Linked DNA regions of Homo sapiens: regions 1 and 3 are each linked to region 2. The links come from fine-mapping of genetic effects on gene expression. A gene starts in region 2. Each other region holds a variant in brackets. All regions are shown on one strand. Distances are between the middles of the regions.

Region 1 (6,062 bases), 24 kb before region 2:
CATGGAAGCCTCTTCCTGGGAGCAGGCCAAACGTTTTAGTGAGAGGTCGGGTGCCTCTCGCGCTGCTGACGCCGTCAGAATCCGCTGCCTGCCTCGTCCATGCCAGTTCCCAGAAGGCGCCCGGTGCCAGAAGAGTTTGAACTTGATCCAAAATGTGTGCACCATGTAGCTTGGGAAAATTCAGCCATTAAAAGCAGCTAAAACTAAGCAATTTATGACTTACAGATGTCAATTTATGACAGAAATCACCGCATATATTGTACCAGCACAGTGACATTTTTTTGGTAATTAACGATTAAAACAGTCATTTCCCAATGTTATGAGCCACCTGGTGTCTGGTAGCATTCAGAGATGGTGCTGGCCTGGGCTGCGAGGACGCGGTGCTCCCAGCAATGGGGCAGGGTCTCCGGCAGGGAGCTGCGGGTGACACTGCTCTCCCCCCATGTCCCAGGATGTTCCCACAGTGACTGGGCACAGACCATGGGGGTGACATACAGTTTCTGCCTCAAAGATCCTGACAAACATTTGCTGAATGAGTGACTAAACGAATTAATTAAGGGTTCCGTTCCACAGGAGGTAAAAACCAAAACATACAGAAAATCTAGGCCAATAAAATACCTGCCAAGACCACAAGGATCCATTCCATTTCCGCCAGGGGTGAGTGTCCGGCAGGACCAGGCCAGAGGAAGGTGCTCTCTGACTCCAGGGCCACTCTTCAAGCCCTTCTCTCCCCTTCCCTCCCTCCTCTCCCCTTCCCTCCCTCCTCCTGTCGCCAATAGATGTGTTGATTGACTGTTCCCTGAAGCCGACCTTGGCAGCCCCTCGCTGAGTGCCGGGCAGGACCAGGCCAGAAAAAGGCTCTTCACGCCCTCTTCTCCCCTTCCCTCCCTCCTCCTGTCCCCAGTAGATGTGTTGATTGACTGTTCCCTGAAGCCGACCTTGGCAGCCCCTCACTGAGTGCCAGGCAGGACAGCCGCCCATGTTCTCTGGAGCCACTGTGGGGTGAACACACAGATCCTGCTCCCTCCGGCCCCCTGGGGTGAGCACTGGGGCTGTGCCTCCCACTTCTCTTCACCCACTCTCTAAAAGGCATCACCCGTGGGTCTGCAGGCATTTCATGCCCCTAATGCCCCAAGGACAGGGCCCCAAACTAGCCAGAGAGGAGGGAGCGTGCAGTGAAACCCGAGGCTGTATCCACTTACACGGCACAGGCCACAGCTGCCCTGGAGTGCAGTCCATGAGCTGCAAAGGAAAGGCTCCTGGCCCCAGGCCAGCTCCCCCCATGGGCATCCTGGGGGCTGCAGAGCCACCTGCTCGGAGTGGGAGTGGCCAGGAGCAGCCTTTAACCCCTGATTGATAATGACTTGGTGGCAGGATTGGGACTGTATGGTTCTGTGATCGGCTGCGAGGGAGGAGGCTCAGGCCACATGCGGGAGGAGGGCTTGGCCTCCACGCAGGAGGCCACCTGGAGCCGCTCAGCCTCACTCACCTCACTCCGCCCCCCTGGGGTGGCCACGCTGCCCCTCCTGAGGCCAGGACTCCATGTCTGCAGTATAAAGGCCAGTCAGTCCCATTCTGTCTGCCTTTCCCAGCACATTCTGACAAGCCCAGCTCAGCCCTCACTTCTCAGAGCACCTGTCTATTTGGTACATTGTGTCCCGGAGACATTCAGAGCCGGAAGCCCGGCAGGACCTTCGATTTGGCCATCGCTGGACCTGGGGCCCATCGGCCACCAGAGGGGCAGGAAGGGGATTTTGGAGCCAATCCCAGGCCCTGGCGCCTCAGGTGCTCCCTCTGTTTTCTTGTTTCATTTCTGGGTTACCAGGTGAGATGTCATTGGAAGAAAGACCTTAAAATTATTTTATTTTTGCTTTAAAAATAATAATGGAAGTTTTACCAGTTCTACAATAGAGGGATGGCAGGAAGGGCGGGCAGAGGGACAGCCGCCCAGGAAGGGAAAGTGTGAGGCCTGCTCCTGGCAGTGCAGTCCTGCTCGAGCCTGCCTCTTTTGCATCTTCTGGATCATTGAGAAACTGTCTGGGTGAAGGTGAGAAGGACTTTACCACTGTGGCAGCCCGGACAACAGGTTTTCCTCTCTTAAGCAAGTGGAGAATAATTTAGCTGGCTCCTATAAGTTTCCTGGGGCTGTCATAAGACCACAGCCCAGGTGGCTTCAATAATAGACATTCACGTTGTCACAGTCAGAGAGGCTGGAAACCCGAGATCAAGGTGTCCAGGGGCCTGGTTCCTCCTGAGGCCTCTCCATGGCTTGCAGATGGCGTCTTCTCTCTGTGTCCTCACAGGGTCCTCCTTCTGTGTGTGTCTGTGTCCTCATCTCCTCTTCTTATAAGGACACCAGGCAGGTTGGACCAGGGTCCAGTCATATGACTTCATTTATCTTCATCAGCTCTGTAAGGACACCATCTCCAAACACTGTCACCTTCTGAGGTCCTGGGAGTCAGGGTTTCCACGTGTGAATTTTGACAGGGCCGAATACAGCCCAGAACAGCCCCTTTTCTGCCGTCCTTTTTATTTTAAAAGCACAGTGCACCTTTAGTCTCCGAACTCCACACCATTCTTCCTGTTGCGGCACAAACAGGGCTCGCACGGCGGCCTGGGAAGCGCGGGGACCGTTAGGCGGAGACTCTGCATTCTAGATCTACCATCTCTTCACCTTCACTCTTGCCAAATGACTAAGCACTCGGGGTTGTGGCTTTCTTGTCTGTACAACAGAGGTATCTACTGGTCTCCAAATCTCTTCTAGCTCCCACGACCCTAACAAATTCCAAAATCAGTTCCTTTCACTCCAAAGCCATGAGACTGCATTACACTAAAACCTCTCCAGTGTCGGTCTGTGTGGCTGCAACCTCCCTGAAGGGGCCTGAGGTTCATGCCATTTATATCTCCAGTAAATCGTGGTAAATTGGGCCATGTGGGCCATCGGCTTTCATCAACTAGAGAGCGTCATTAGCTGCAAAAATGTGTTGACTCATATTCGTTGGTTTTCAAAGACCTATGGTGGCTCTGAGGTTTCCAGAGCCAGCACAATCAGTGCAATTACACTGAGACTCTCCAAAGAATGAGCTTTCTCAGAAAATAGCTGCTGTTCGCCGTGTCAGGCCAAAGGTACTCTAGGAAGGCATTTTCCGTGGTACTTTGAGGTTAGCACTTCCAGGAAATTCAGGGAGAATAAAGCAACAAGGAGGTGCTTAAAAATTCGATCAGAGGCCCAGAGAGGAAAACAAACAAAATGTAGTTGTGTGTTT[T/G]CCGAGTACAGTGGAGCAGGTGGCCGGGCAGCCTGCAGCGGGGAGGGGTTCCAGGTGTGGGCTGTGGTGTGGGGAGCAGGGACCCCATTTCTCAGAGCTTATTGGAAAGAGGGAAAAATCTCTTTGGCCCTGCTGGGTGTAGGGAAGACTTTGTTTGTCTTTTTGTGTTTACTTTTCAGTCCCTGGTAGCCTCTTATAAACAATATGGTGTGTTGTGTTTTGGAGGGATTCCCTCTATTGTAAGCTTGTATTGCATATTAACAGAAACTCAAGGCTTCCTGGATGGGCACAGAGAGCTCCATCTAATCTCACGCTGCAGACCCAGCACCCAGGAGAGGGGGTGAGAGGCTCTCCTGGCTGCCGTCTCTCCGGGATCGCAGTTGGCTGGAAGGAAGGGTCTGGGGTGGTTCCCACGCTTGAACAGGGATCGGGTTGTCCCGCTGGGCACCCTGTGATATCTCCTGCCTTTCCAGGGCATCGGTTTTGGAGTCTAGAGGATGGGGACAATGGGTTTGGCCAACTCTGTGACAATGAGGAGGAAGAGTGCATTGCGTTCTCTCTTACGCAGCTCTCTCAGTGCCGTGCTCTGCATTGCGTTCGCCTCTTATTTAAACTGTTTGACCATGCGTGGGTCTCGGAGGAAGAAAAGGAGGCAGCGTCTTCTCTTAGCACAATCAGGACAAATCCATGCCACTGGGTGGAAACACCAACCCCGGGCACCCTGCTCACCCCTGCACCCTCCTCCCGTCTCCCTCCTTCCTTCCTGCATTTCTCCCACAAATATACCTTTGGAATAATCAAATAACAAAGATGAATCACAATCCATCCACTCCCAGGGCTTTCAAAAAGAGCGCCTTGTGTCCCTGCTAAACAGAGACAGTCGAATTTTTTTGAGGAAACTTGTTTGCCTGCTGAGTTCCAACTTACACACTCAGCCATGTCTGCTCCATGCCTCACCCCACTCCGCCTTTCAATGAGAGGAGGGGACCCCCCCAGCTCCACGCCCCACCCCACTCCACCTTTCAGTGAGAGAGGAGGGGACCCCCCAGCTAAAGTGATTCCCCCCTAGTGTTTCGAACTCCGTGTACCGGACGCCAGCCTCTGCTCCCACCCTGTACTGAAACCCGGCTGCAGTTCCCCTCAGACGTCTTCAGATTCTCCCTCTCTTTTAGCATCTTGTAGTTGGCAACTCAACATGCTTAATTCAAGAACAATGACAAACCAACGCCTCTCTCCCCCGCCCCTGTGGCCCAGCCAGATCACCTTAACAGCCCACCCTCATTCCTGCCAGGCCTGCCTCGGCCCCTCACACTCTGGCCACTCACTTGTCCCTTTTAATAAAACTGTCAGCCCAGGTCACAAAATAACTCTTCCCAGGTTCCTAACTCGCCAGGTGTCCTGGCATCACGTGACACCATTAGCCAACCTCCCTTGAGTGTGGTAGGTTCCATGTAGTTTCTGTCAGCTTTTTCTCTTCCTGTTTCTTTCTGTCAGTGCCAGTTTCTCTTTCTCTCCTTATCCTAGATCTTTACTCCCCCTACACTTACTGGACGGCAATTCACATCTGTGGCTTCAACTGCAACCCACGCATTTGCCAAATCTGACCCTCTAGTGAGACTTTATTCACCCTGCTCCACTGCCTCTGGGGTATCTTGGCTGCGATATCTCACTGGCCTTCCCAAATTCAAAGTCTGTGAAACTTAGTTTGTCATCACTGTCTCTGGACCTACACAGTGTATTCACCATGTCAGTGAAGGGGTCTTTGGCTATGCCGGGGGTCCCCGAAACCCCCCTCAGGCTCTGTACTCACTGGTACTCACTGGGTAGGGCTGGCGCACCAGCAGCCATTGTTTAACATTGTGAAAGTCCACAAATTGTCACCAGCGAAGGGAGGGGAGCCTGGGTGACAACAAGGAGAATCCAGGCATTTGCCTCCAGACATCCTTGCCCAGTGAGTTGCGGGAATGGGCTTAGTTCCCCCAGAAATGATGGTGATAATGTGTGCAATGACACCAGCTGGAAAACTCACCTGAGCCTCCGGGTCCAAGGTTCAGCTGGGAAAGTTCACCTGAGCTTCGGCGTCCAAGGTTTTTATTGAGGGTCAGTCACTTAGGGAGGCAGTGTCTGTGTGACAGACCACAGCAGCTCAGACTCCAGCCTCCCAGAGGGAAAACAGAAATTCTCTATAATTCCATTATTAAAATAAACTATATGGTCAAGCAAGTACCACGTGTCCTGAATCCTCAGGCCCACAAAACACTGTGACCAGGCAAGGCCTTCCCAGGCCTGTCAGGGGCCTCCCAACAGCCCTGCCCTGAGTCTTGGCTCTGGCCTTCAGATCAGTCCTGCAATGACAAACCAATGCCTATCTCCCCCTCCCCACAGTGTATACACCTGTGCAGCCTCTTGCCCCCTCCCCACAGTGTATACACCAGTGCAGCCTCTCCCCCCAACACAGTGCGTAGACTTGCACAGCCTCTCTCCCCCTCCCCACAGTGCATACGCCAGTGCAGCCTCTGCCCCCAACACAGTGCATAGACTTGCACAGCCTCTCTCCCCCTCCCCACAGTGCATACGCCAGTGCAGCCTCTCCCCTCAACACAGTGCATAGACTTGCACAGCCTCTCTCCCCCTCCCCACAGTGTATACACCAGTGCAGCCACTCCCCCACAACACAGTACATAGACTTGCACAGCCTCTCTCCCCCTCCCCACAGTGCATACGCCAGTGCAGCCTCTCCCCCCAACACAGTGCATAGACTTGCACAGCCTCTCTCCCCCTCCCCATAGTGCATAC
Region 2 (6,062 bases):
CCCTCAATCTGTGGGGGACTCGCAGTGTTGGGCATGGTGCATGGACTGATTGGAGGATTTGTGTTGGGGATGGTGCATGGACTTATTGGAGGATTTGTGTTGGGGATGGTGCATGGACTGATTGGAGGATTGGTGTTGGGCATGGTGCGTGGACTGATTGGAGGATTTGTGTTGGGGATGGTGCGTGGACTGATTGGAGGATTGGTGTTGGGCATGGTGCGTGGACTGATTGGAGGATTTGTGTTGGGGATGGTGCGTGGACTGATTGGAGGATTTGTGTTGGGGATGGTGCGTGGACTGATTGGAGGATTGGTGTTGGGCATGGTGGGTGGACTGATTGGAGGATTTGTTGGGGTGGTGCTGCTTGGCTCCTGCAGTCAGACCCACCTCACAAGCAACATCTTGTCCCAAAAACTAGTCCAAAGCAAAGCTACATTGTGGGGAAAGAGAGAACCGTGGGAACCTAGGAAGGGACAGACCACAGGGGCAGGACGAGTCCAGTCTGGAGCTCATAGAGGGCAGATCCCGCTTGGGACCACATGCCACTGGGTAAATACACTTTCAAAATCCCAATTCCACACATTCTGCTGGTGTCAACAGAATCCACTTCCCTCTCAGGCCATCATTGCCTCATTCTAAAATCTGTGGTTCAGCTTCTGACCAAACATGACAGCATCTAACTGTTTTCACTACAAAGGGCATCACCTGTCCAGGAAAGGGCTTTCTCACCCAACGGGCAAGAGTGCCATCAACCAGCATGACAGGAGGGGTGTGGGTGATGGGAAAACCATGGAGAACTTGAGAGGGCTCACACCGGGCGCTGCTGGGATGACCAAAGACCTCAGACAAGTAACGTGAAATTCTATACCACGGTTTACCTCTATAAAACAGGAGTAAAAGTGTGTTCCTCACACCATTATCATCAGCAGTACTTTGGCGCATCCATAAGTCCTTCCTGAGAGCCTCACATACAGCAGGGACTCAATAAGTAACTGCTCATAGATTCACGTGCACTGTCAGATCAGTTACATAAATATGAAATGTGGCCAGGGGTTCCAAACATCGATACCAACGCAGCTTGAAAGGAACCAGAAATGGAGGAACAGTATTTGATATGTCCCTTTAAAAATCTGGGTAGACCAGCAGTTTAGGAAGTGAACACGGGCACTCACAGGAGGCGCGGAGCTGCTGTATCGCACAGTAACATTAATGCAGTAAGCTCAGGTGTGTTGGCCGAAGACACAGCCATTGGCGAGAACGTAGCCCACAGCCGCGGACACGAGTTTGTCGAGAGGCTGCACATGCATTCGGGTTATTCACAGCCACCTCCAAGAGGGGAGTCCATAAAGTGTGGGGGCTGTTATTGATGGAGGCAGAATTATATGCCTCTTACTGCACAGATATATCAGCCTGGCATTTTTCTACTTACTCCAGGATTTTTATAACGTTCAGTTCAATGGCATTCTTGCTTAGTGAATAATTTTAATTTGTGCATCCAGAATGATAAATTTATGAATGTTGATGACAGCAAAGACCCATCCCTCATCGGCTTCTCCCCGTGCAGCTGGGCCCCTCTCCCCTGTCGTCCATCTGATGTTCTTGCCAACACCCCTTCAAATATCTCACGCTGGACGGCTCTCCTGCTCCTCTGATGAGATGTGTGATCAAACGGAAGAAAATTATTCTGATAGACTATCTGACCCCCGTCTTACCAAACCAAATAGCATCTCACAATATTATATTTTTAACTTTCTAATCATCCTGTTATGTATATCATCCTGTTATGTATATCAAGTCTTTTTACAGCAAGTCTTTCTAATCATCCTGTTATGTATAGCAAGTCTTCTTACAACAGAAACAGCATTCTTCTTGCCAGTCATGTTAAGGGCATTGATTTTAATTTAGTTTTTGTGGATTATTGTGTTTGCTTGATTTAAAATGAAAATCAAGGAGGAAGAAGTTTTTAAATATCATCAGGCAGTTTGCTGAGTTACTACTGTAAGCAAACCCCGTAAAAATCATCAAAACAGAATCCTAGGCATAGGAAAGAAAACTCCCTCATAACCACCGATCTATGTGGGGATGAGAATGTCTCTATAAGGAACGCTAGACATGTATTTAAAATACTAGCAGAGTCATATCGTAAATGAGGATGCGATAAGTACAAGAAGCAGTTCTCCACAAGGAATTGGAAGTGAGATTCTGTGGCGAGCACTGTAGTTTTAAACTGAGGGAAGCGGAGGGAGAAGTTCCTGTAAGAATTCTTTCCCTTTGTCATTCTCCTCAGGCTCCTGACCAGTTTCTGGGTTAAAGAGAAGGGCAGTGCCTCTCTCGTCTGTGGTCACTTGGTTAATATCATCCCCAAATGCGGAAGCTTCCAAAAAGCTGGAGTGGTTTCGTTTGGAAGTCAGAGCTGTGCACAAATAAGTTATTTTCTCTATTTCACATAATTATTAACAAATGCAAATTAAGATGCAGGGGATGTTTCTATGCCAGGACTCACCTGTGGGGAACTGTGAGGCTGATGAGGCAAGCAGCGAAGTGGCTGCCTGTGCCCGCTCACGACCCCTCCACGCACCAAGTGCGTGAGTCAGGGAGGTGCCAGGAGGAGGCGGGAACAGCTGCTTCATGTCATCCGGCTCAGTCCGTGTGTGTTGCTAGAAAGGAACACCCGAGGCTGGGTGATTTATGAGGAAGAAAGGTTTGTGCAGCCATGGCTCTGCAGGCTGTACAGGAAGCGTGGCACCAGCATCTGCATCTGGTGAGGCCCCAGGAAGCTTCACTCGTGGCCGATGGGGAGGGGAGCGGCCTGTGCAGAGATCACGTGGTGGGAGAGGCGGTGGGAGGGGCCAGGCTCTTCCTACCAATCAGCTCTCACTGCAACACACAGAGCAAGAACTCATTCATAACCAGGAGGACAGCACCAAGATAATCGTGAGGGATCCACCCCTGACCCCAGCATCCCCCACCAGGCCCCACCTCCAACACTGGGGATCACGTTTCAACATGAGATCTGGAGGGGACAAACCTCCAAACCATAGCACTGACTGTGCCACTCTTAAGAGACAGTTGGACAGCTCCTTGCCTCCTCTACAAGACTAGGGATGGGGTTCCAGGCATGCTCGTTAATGACTGCCCCATCTGCACCACCTGCCCCATCTGCCCCACCTGCCCCACCTACCCCACCTGCCCCAGGCCATCTCTCCAACTTCCCACCTGTGTCCTTTCCAAATCCCAGGAGCAGCCGCGCAAGTGCAAGACCGCCCTGCTGCCTTAGAACAAGGCTTTCCCCAGAAAGCTGTCTCTACCTAGGACATGCCCTGTCCCTCGCTTCCTGAGCAACAGCCCCTCAACACAGATGCACATGCACGCATACACACATACACAAACACGTGCATACATGCACATGCACATATATGCATGCACACACGCACATAAGCACACACGCACACACACCCATACGTGCTCACACACAGACACACGTGCACATGAGCATACACGCTCACACACATGCACATACACGCACATAAACGCACGCAGACACGCGCACACACACAAGCACATGAACATACACATGCGCACACACGTACATGCTCACATACGCACATACACACACATAAACACACAAGCACATGAGCATACACATACACACCCATACATGCACGCACACGCATGCACACATGTTCAGGCCAGCTGCCTCGGCTAGCTCTGTGCAAATGGTGGGCGTCTTCTGCAAGCCACCCTGTCTTCCCAGGCTGTCTTCCTCTCAGGACGCACATACAACCCCTCCGAGGTAACAGGACACAGATGCAACCCACAGAGCCGACAGGAAAACGTGGACCACCAGCGTCGGGCTGCTGATGTACTTTGAACTGAAAAGGCCCCCTAGATACCCACAGAACTGCACGGCTGAGGCGAAGAGAGACCATGAGAAACAGAGATACCAATGTTTCAGTCAAGGAAAAAATTAGAGAAGAATGTGGAATAAAAAGAATCATAAAGTGAAATAAATGTTTTCAGATTTTAGATTTCAGATCCACTCCCGCAGATGAAATCGTGAGATTCCTGAAGAAAATAATTGCACCAGTATTTGATCATTTTACAGTTTTGATTATGCTTATTTCCAGTTTTCCAGGAAAGAAATCTTTGTGTAACCTCATATGCACGTGTTACAAGTAGAACCAGAAATTCCTCCTCCCCCAAACATACAAAAAGGAAAGCAATTATTTAAGTCAGGTACCTGACCTTTTTTTACAGCTATTAGTACAAAAAGTGTTTTCTGGGGTGGTTTCCTGGCATGAAACTCAGGATTTATAGAATCTCTTCCTGTTCGTGAAGTTATTATTATTATTTTATTACTAAAGCCCTTAACTAAAGCAAGGATGCTTACTTAAATTGGCAGCTAGCTGTGAAAATGGAAAGGTAAAAAGACATAGCAGTATGTATTTGTGGATATAAACTATCTTTAAATCTGGAGGCTCAGACATAGATTGGACTATCCTGACTATTTTCTGTGTATTTCATTCCAGCCAGACTGCTAGTTCTAGGCTGGAAATATTATTCTCAACATAGAATTACAGGCCTTTGTGTCACCGCTCACTGTGATAGCCAGCAGTTCCTGGACCCTCACAGCACCTGTACACAGCACACATGAACACACGCGCGTGTGCACTCTGACCCTGCCTACCACCTCCCCCCGGGCAGCCACCGGGCTGTGCTGTTCTCGTAATCAAAGGTGGAGATGAGGAAAGTGTCTGCCTACAGCAAACACTCAGAAATAGATTCCTGTGAAAACCAAACAAAAAGGCAATAGAAAGGAGAAGTGGGAGATACTACATTTTTCATTAGGGCTGTTGCTGTGGAGGTTTTAGAACTTGGGCTCAGGAAAAGTGCTTCTTGCTGATTGACCCATTATCCAAGTCTGGTTGGAGGAACTTGTGATGCCAGCAGGTCTGAAAATTGCCCAGAAGATCACAAACATGGATGCCTGCTGGTGGACCAAAGAGATATTAAGGAACTCTAATTATTTTCTTTTATATCTTTCCTACTGAGTATTGGACACGTTAGTCACAAATGGCGACTGAATTAGTGGGACTTATATGTGGTGATTCCATAGGCATCAAAACACCTGTGAGGCTTAGTAGTCATAAAGTCCTGACCCTATTTTTGCTCTATTGCACCAAATACATTCATTGTATTATAAGAAGTTTGTATGTCTCAGACTCTCCTACAAAATTTTGTGTACCTTAAAGATAGTGACAAAGAATTATCTACCTATCATCTATTCTCTCTCTCTCTAATCTATCTATCTATCTATCTATCTATCTATCTATCTATCTATCTTCATATCCCCAGGATACTGTCTAGAATATAGTAAGTGCTGAATAAATTAATGAAATGCTTAATTAAAAAATGAATAGGTGAATGAATGAGTAGATGGATGGATGGATGGATGGATGCATGGGTGGATATTGAGTAGACAGATCAGGTTGATTAGAGAAAGAAACAAGCTATTCAATACTGTTTATAATATGCAGGCCATTTATACAGAAAAGAGCATTTATAAAATAGGAGATTAAAAGGATGACAGATTAGAAAATGAAATGTTCAAGATTTGTGCTGATATAATGGTGAAACTGGGATGGGGAGCATCTGACTAGATTTTAGAGAGAATTAAGCCTCAAGGTAAAACATTTTGATTTTATTTCAGTGATACTCTAAATCATTGCTTGTTTCTGATAAGGAAAGAGTCAGTATTAATTTGGAAGCTGCAAGGTTGGAATAAAGTTATTTTAATGATGAGTGGAGAATCTGAAATGTTGGAACAGGCTCATGGTCAAAATGCAGAAACTCGTGATAGAGATGAATGAGACCGAGGTGCTATTCCAGACGAAGCCTCTGGCAGGTTCTTTAAGCAAATCTAATGTGAGGGGGTGGGATGGCCCAGCAAGCATAGGGGCTTTGTTCTTGGTTTCCCCAGCTCAGGGCTGCGTGACGTGCATGTAACTTAACCCTGTAACCGAGCCACCTCCAACTTCCTGATCTGTAACACAGTGGGGTGG
Region 3 (6,062 bases), 190 kb before region 2:
CTTTTCAGCTGTATGTTTTCAGCTTCATTTTACCTTGCGCACCTCTTTAAAGACCCCATCTTCAAATATGGTCACACTGTGAGGCACCACAGGTCAGGACTTAAATGCATGAATTTTGGGGGAACACCATTCAGCCCATGACAGAGAGAAAACCACAGAAATTCACCTTCGGAAACATTTTCTGAAAACTAAAGCTTACGGTTAGGGTATCAGTGCCCTTTTCCCAGAAACATTATCTCTACCTCAATAAGGGCCAGAAAATTCATAAATCCCACCTTCATCCCTGTAGCATCACTGCTAGAAAACCATCACGTCTCCAGGGTGAGAAATACTTTTGGAATTGAACTAACCTCTGATTAGGTTCCCCTTGATGTCTTTGCCACGTGGTGCCCTCTAACAGGGTGGTTAGAAGGTAAGTAGTTTTATTTCATTCCACCTTTTGATTTCTCCCTTCCTGGCCCTTTGGAAGGTGCCCATTTCTCATTAAAGATGGAGAGAACCGTGGTGATTCTAAGAAGGGCTGCTGTCCCCTGTGCAGGTGGCAAGCGGACCGTTCTCACTTCTCGCTGACAGTTCTTTTCCCAGGTTTGATAAGGTCTGCTTCATAACTCTCTTATGGGGAGGTAAAAAGGACCTAAGACACCATCAACTAAACTGTGTCTCTATCTCCTGGATGAGGGAAGTGAGGCCCAAAGAATGCAAGTGGCTACCGAAGAAAGCGAGATGGTGAGAGCAAGCCTGAATCAGAGCCTGGTCCCTCCGGCCCCACCGGCTGTTCTTTGCTTAAGAAGGGACCAAGGCCCTGGAGCAGGATTGAACAGGTGGGTTCAGAAAGGCCACGGGGAGAGCTCAGGTCCCCAGAGGACAGGAGCACAAAACTCAGGAGCAGATGTTCTCTGGGCAATGTAGAGCGAATCGCCACTTAGAAAAGACACTGCTGGAAGCTCTTCCATGTTGCTGTTAAAACAGAAGTCTCAGAAACAGTGTGTTAGCAGTGGCCGTAAAAGCTACATCATAGGACCATGACACACAAGGGCCTTCTGAGAAGGGGCATGCGCTCCCGTTTCCAGGGAGATACTGAATAGCGTGCAGCCCAGCTCACACCTTAGTGACATGTGTTGTCCACACCTGTGTGTGCATGTGTGTGTATGTGCATGTGTACACATGAATATGAATATAGGACACCTTAGTGTGTATGTGCACACCTGTGTGTGCGTGTATGTGTGTGTGTACACATGTATATGAATATGGGTAAATATACACGTATGTATAGGCACACTCCACTGTGCTTTTGCTTGCTTAAGTAATACACGTTTTTGATTTGAGGGTTAAAGGAAACTGCAGAGGTCGTTGAACTAGATTCAGATAGGCAAACGTCTTCATTTTTCAGATATCTATATAATAAGTACATTGAATTCCAAAATAATTATTAATCACAGCACAAGGTAAAAATCTTTAAGGAATGCAATGAATTAAGACGAGGGGTGAGGGAATTTTTCATTCTATTTCCCAAGAGAAGAATAGAAAAAATAGGAAGTTGATGTGCTACCAAGAAACGGAATGAAATACAGCACATTATTCATTCGATAAAACCCGGAACTAAATTTGAAAATTACAAAGTGTGCTTATCAGGTTGATACTCATGCTTTGGGTTACCGGGCATGTAGATTTACAATGAGGACCTACTGCGTTCCCTTGTGTGCCCCTGTGTGTTTGTGTAGAGGATACTTTCATCCACTTGCCTGCATAAACAAGAAGTCACTTCTTAGATTAACTGATTCAGAGTCAGTGCTGGTAAAACAAAGTGGAATTGAAGCCACAGGTAAATGTGCATGTTCTATTTTAACCTCAGTAAGTCAGTGAATGAAAAGTAGATTACAGAAATAAATCTGCATGCACAATAATAGCCAGGACATTTGAACTCACTCTAAGTGACCAGTGCCCCAAATGTCAATTTAAAGGTTAAATAAGTGCGACCCTCCCAAGAAAACATGTTGTAACGTTGTAGCACCCCCACAGTGTAACGAAGGGTTTACAGTGAAATAGAGTCTACACAATTTCATGACACACCAACTGACTAAAATAGCTCTTCCCATCTGTTCCCAATCTTACTTATAAAGTCGTTTTACATAAACACTCACAGGTAGGACTTCTGATAGTTAAACATTTTAAACCTTTAAATATAGTAAACAAATCCCCGATTCTTGGTGGCATTTTATTAGCAATGAGCCAGTAAGTATCAATCTCTGATCACCAGGAATGAGGGGTGCTCTCATGCCGCTGAACTTCGACAAGGGGGCAGATGGAGACGATTTCTCTGGACCCCTCTCCAGTCAGTCCTGTGGACCCCAGGAGCACTGACCAAGGGCTGGGATGAGGCCAAGGCTGAGGGTAGATGAAAGCACAAATGCTGTGTCCCTGAGATCCAGAGCTCAGTCCAGAACAGACACATCATTGAGATAATATTGTATGTGACACTGAGGCCACACAAGGCCCTCTGTACATTTGGCTTAAATGGGCTTTTGTGAGCTTTGCTGCCGTTGCAATAATGCATAAAATTCTTTA[T/C]GTGTAAAATACCTTCCTGTGCAAAGTCCCAATTGACTTCCAACAGAAATCACTTGCAATCTGTGTACCTAACACTAATGTGTCCAGCGTGTGTGTGTCTTTGCACTCCCTGTGATGTGTATGCACACAGCAAGCCCACCTAATTCAGTATAAATAGAATCCCACTAGGTGAAAGCTACTTGGGAAAATATAGAAAACACGCTGACAGTAAGGTGGTACTTTTAAAGTCTGTGTTTGATACTTGTTCTTTCTGAATTATTTTATGTCAACGTCAACATTCGTTTGGTCTTATCTGAACACATACAGCAAAATGTCACCTCTTGCAATATTTTGGTTTGTATTCTTCTCTTTATAGCTTTATTTTTAAAAAGTGACTTGAATTATTTACATAATTTTGATGATGATGAATTAACTTCTCTGCTGGGGCCAGGGCCCTTCTTTCTGCTGACATCCCCTCAAGCAGAGGAAGGCCAAACTTGAGCTGGAGATGCAGGTTTGTCAAATTAATCTCTTCCTGCATTTCCTTCAAGCGAGTGCTGGCCTTGTTTTCAGTTATGTTAACTGTATTCTTCCTCATAAAGTTCCACAATTGAATTCCCATTTTTGAAATCATCTTCATCCGAGCAGTGGGAAGATGCACATTCAAAGCGGCTTTGTGCAGGGAGAGGAGGTGGGTGCCTTTGCTTTCTGAAAACCTTCCAGACAGAAGCACTGCAGCGAGCCAGTGGCGCCAGGACATCGGGCACACACGTTAATAAACGTCTTTTATACCAGCTCCTCTTCTTTTTCCATATGATATTAGTTGCTGCCCCCAAATTTGCCTTGAGTGAGCTTCCTGCTCCTCCAAATGTTTTGCCACAGGGTTTCCACGTGTCCAGGGGCCCAGAGGCCCCCGCATGCTCCTGCAGTGTGGGCCAAAGTAGAAATAATGTCCCATTTCACCCCATCATCCATGAGACAATACCGATTACTCTGCTAAATATTCAAATAAAGACTGCCCCTAGATTTCTCTTTTGGCAATTTTTTTTGCCATCTACAAGTTAACCTATTTTTTTCCACTTTTATTTTAGATTCAGGGGATACTCAACTTTTATTTCAGATTCAGTTAACATGTGTGAGTTTCTTCCCTGAATAAATTGGGTGTCGCTGAGGTTTGGTATAGGATCTTCTCAGCCAGGGAGTGAGCATAGTACCTGGCAGTTTTTCAATCCTTGTTCTTCTCCGGACCCTTCTAGTGTTCCCAGTGTGTGTTGTTCCCATACCTGTGTCCATGAATACTCAGTGTTTACCTCCCACTTATAAGTGAGAACATGTGGTATTTGGTTTTCTATTCCTCTGTTAATTTTCTCAGGGTAACAGCCTCTAGCTGCATCCATGTTGCTGCAAAGAACATGATTTTATTCTTTTTCATGGCTGCATTATATTCCACAGTGTATGTGGACCTCATTTTCTTTATCCAATCCACCATCAATAGGCACTAGATTGATTCCATGCCTTTGCTATTGTGAATAGTGCTGCGATGAACATATAAGTGCATGTGTCTTTTAAGCAGAACAATTTATTTGGTGGGGGGTGGGTATACCCCCAGGAATGTGACTGCTGGGTTGAATGGTAGTTCTGTTTTAGGTCTTTGGAAAAGTTGGCTGAGCTAATTTACATTCCCACTAACAGTGTATAAGCATTCTCTTTTTTCCATAGCTTTGCCAGCATCTGATACCTTCTGACTTTTTGTCATAGCCATTCTGACTGGTATGAGATGGTATTGCATGGTGATTTTGATTTGCATTTCTCTAATGATTAGTCACGTTCAATGTTTTTCACATGCTTGTGGATCGCATGTTTGTCTTCTTTAGAGAACGTGTTTGATCATGTCCTTTGCCCATTTTTTAATAGGGTTGTTTGTTTTTTGCTTGTTGATTTATTTAGGTTCCTTATAGATTCTGAACCTTTGTCAGATACATGGTTTGCAAATATTTTCTCCCAATCCGTAGGTTGTCTGTTGCTCTGTTGATGGCTTCTTTTGCTGCGCAGAAGCTCTTTAGTTTAATTAGGTCCCATTTGCCAATTTTTGGTTTTGTTTCTTTTAGCAATTTTTTATCAAAAGGCCACTGTATAAAATGCTTCTGATTCAATGGAGCTAGGGAACAAATTAGTTTATTCTATAGATATCATATATTCAATTTAGAAGGCATTGTTTTTTCTGAAATCCAAAGATTTGAAATGTTGCACTTCATGAGAGAAGAATCAGTGGTGTAAAATGATGGGATCCCAATTTGGAGAGCAAGAGAATAGAGGAGTGTGTGAGACTGTAGTGCCCTGGGCATTGTAGAAGGTAAAGGTGGGCCAGGCATGGTGGTTCACACCTGTAATCCCAGCACTTTGGGAGGCTGAGGTGAGCCAATCACCTGAGGTCAGGAGTTCAAGACCAGCCTGGCCAACATGGTGAAACCCTGTTTCTACTGAAAATACAAAAACTAGCCAGGTATGGTAACACACACCTGTAATCCCAGCTACTACTTGGGAGGCTGAGGTGGGAGAATTGCTTGAACCTGGGAGGCAGAGGTTGCAGCGAGCTGACATCACGCCACTGCACTCCAGCCGTCTCAAAAAACAACAACAACAACAACAAAAAGAAGGTAAAGATAAACTTTTAGGCAGATTATACAGCTAAGAAAAATAGGAAAATCTGACCACTACAATCGAGGTAAATTTCCAAAGTTCCTTAATTCACAATCAATTGAGATGGAAAGGCAAAGTCTCTCATCTTGCCGAGAGGCTCAGGGACAGTCCCAGCCACAAGAACCTGCCTGGGAGCTGGAAGCCAGAGCCTGGAGCCCCCTCCTGGGAGGGCAGAGTCAGAAACACAACCTGGGGGCCTGGCCTCTGCCTGTCAACTGGGTCGTGCTGCCCCCCTAGGTAAAGCAGCCGTGAAGACCCTGGCCCCTGCTTTAGGGATGCTCAGAGCCGTGTTGCCAGCTGCAATCTCTAAACGCCGCTCCCTGTCTCATTCCTCCCACAGGGGCAATGCTCAGACATGGAGGCGGGGCAGGAGGTACAGGACAGCCCAGCATTTGCAGAGAGACTCGATTGTGGACTCACACGGAGGCATGCACACACACAAAAGGGCAAGGGTGACATTTCGGGTCAGCCCTGGGGGCTAGCATGTTCATTCCCCACCGTGTTCCCAGGGCAGTGGGGCCACAGGTGCCCAAGAACACTGGGAGGAAGCAGCCTCCCTACCAGCAGAAGCCTGACCGTCCATGCATGTGGGTGGGACCACGTTCTGGATGATTCCTCCAAGTCACAGGCAAGGAACATGGAGAGTGGGAAGAGCTAAGCTCCAGAATCAAAAAAGTACGACCAAATATAAGTTTCCCCCAGTTGTAGTTATTTGAATTCCATATTTTCAGTTTCTGCCCCGGCCATCACCTTCCTATGATGTGTGTTAGGTTTTCTCAGCATGATGGAAACAGCGACTTTCTGTTGCTGCTGTGTTT

Direction of the effects. Positions count from the first base shown, and alleles are read on the strand shown. Sizes are in standard deviations (SD) of each study's normalised expression. Not every link is listed here.
In carriers of allele C in region 3, the expression in spinal cord of the gene that starts at base 2,773 in region 2 tends to be lower than with T alone (large effect, 0.81 SD a copy in GTEx).

What was found. PIP is the estimated chance that this variant, and not a neighbour inherited with it, causes the effect.
Region 1: its variant is the best candidate, but not a certain one, in a credible set for the expression of ADARB2-AS1 in spinal cord (GTEx, PIP 0.64).
Region 3: its variant is the best candidate, but not a certain one, in a credible set for the expression of ADARB2-AS1 in spinal cord (GTEx, PIP 0.90).

What each region holds. Positions count from the first base shown.
Region 1 is chr10:1,547,409-1,553,470 of GRCh38, reverse strand. The region is part of intron 1 of ADARB2 (adenosine deaminase RNA specific B2 (inactive)); the gene reads left to right. The region is part of intron 1 of ADARB2-AS1 (ADARB2 antisense RNA 1); the gene reads right to left. Among named protein-coding and RNA genes, the nearest start is that of ADARB2-AS1, 24 kb to the right of the region's middle. RefSeq lists an enhancer at 740-1,267. The variant T/G (reference allele first, on the strand shown) is at 3,267.
Region 2 is chr10:1,523,341-1,529,402 of GRCh38, reverse strand. It overlaps ADARB2-AS1 (ADARB2 antisense RNA 1), which reads right to left and starts at 2,773. Exons shown (of 2, transcript NR_033387.2): 1 at 2,504-2,773. All of the region lies in intron 1 of ADARB2 (adenosine deaminase RNA specific B2 (inactive)), which reads left to right.
Region 3 is chr10:1,718,108-1,724,169 of GRCh38, reverse strand. The region is part of intron 1 of ADARB2 (adenosine deaminase RNA specific B2 (inactive)); the gene reads left to right. Among named protein-coding and RNA genes, the nearest start is that of ADARB2, 16 kb to the left of the region's middle. The variant T/C (reference allele first, on the strand shown) is at 2,566.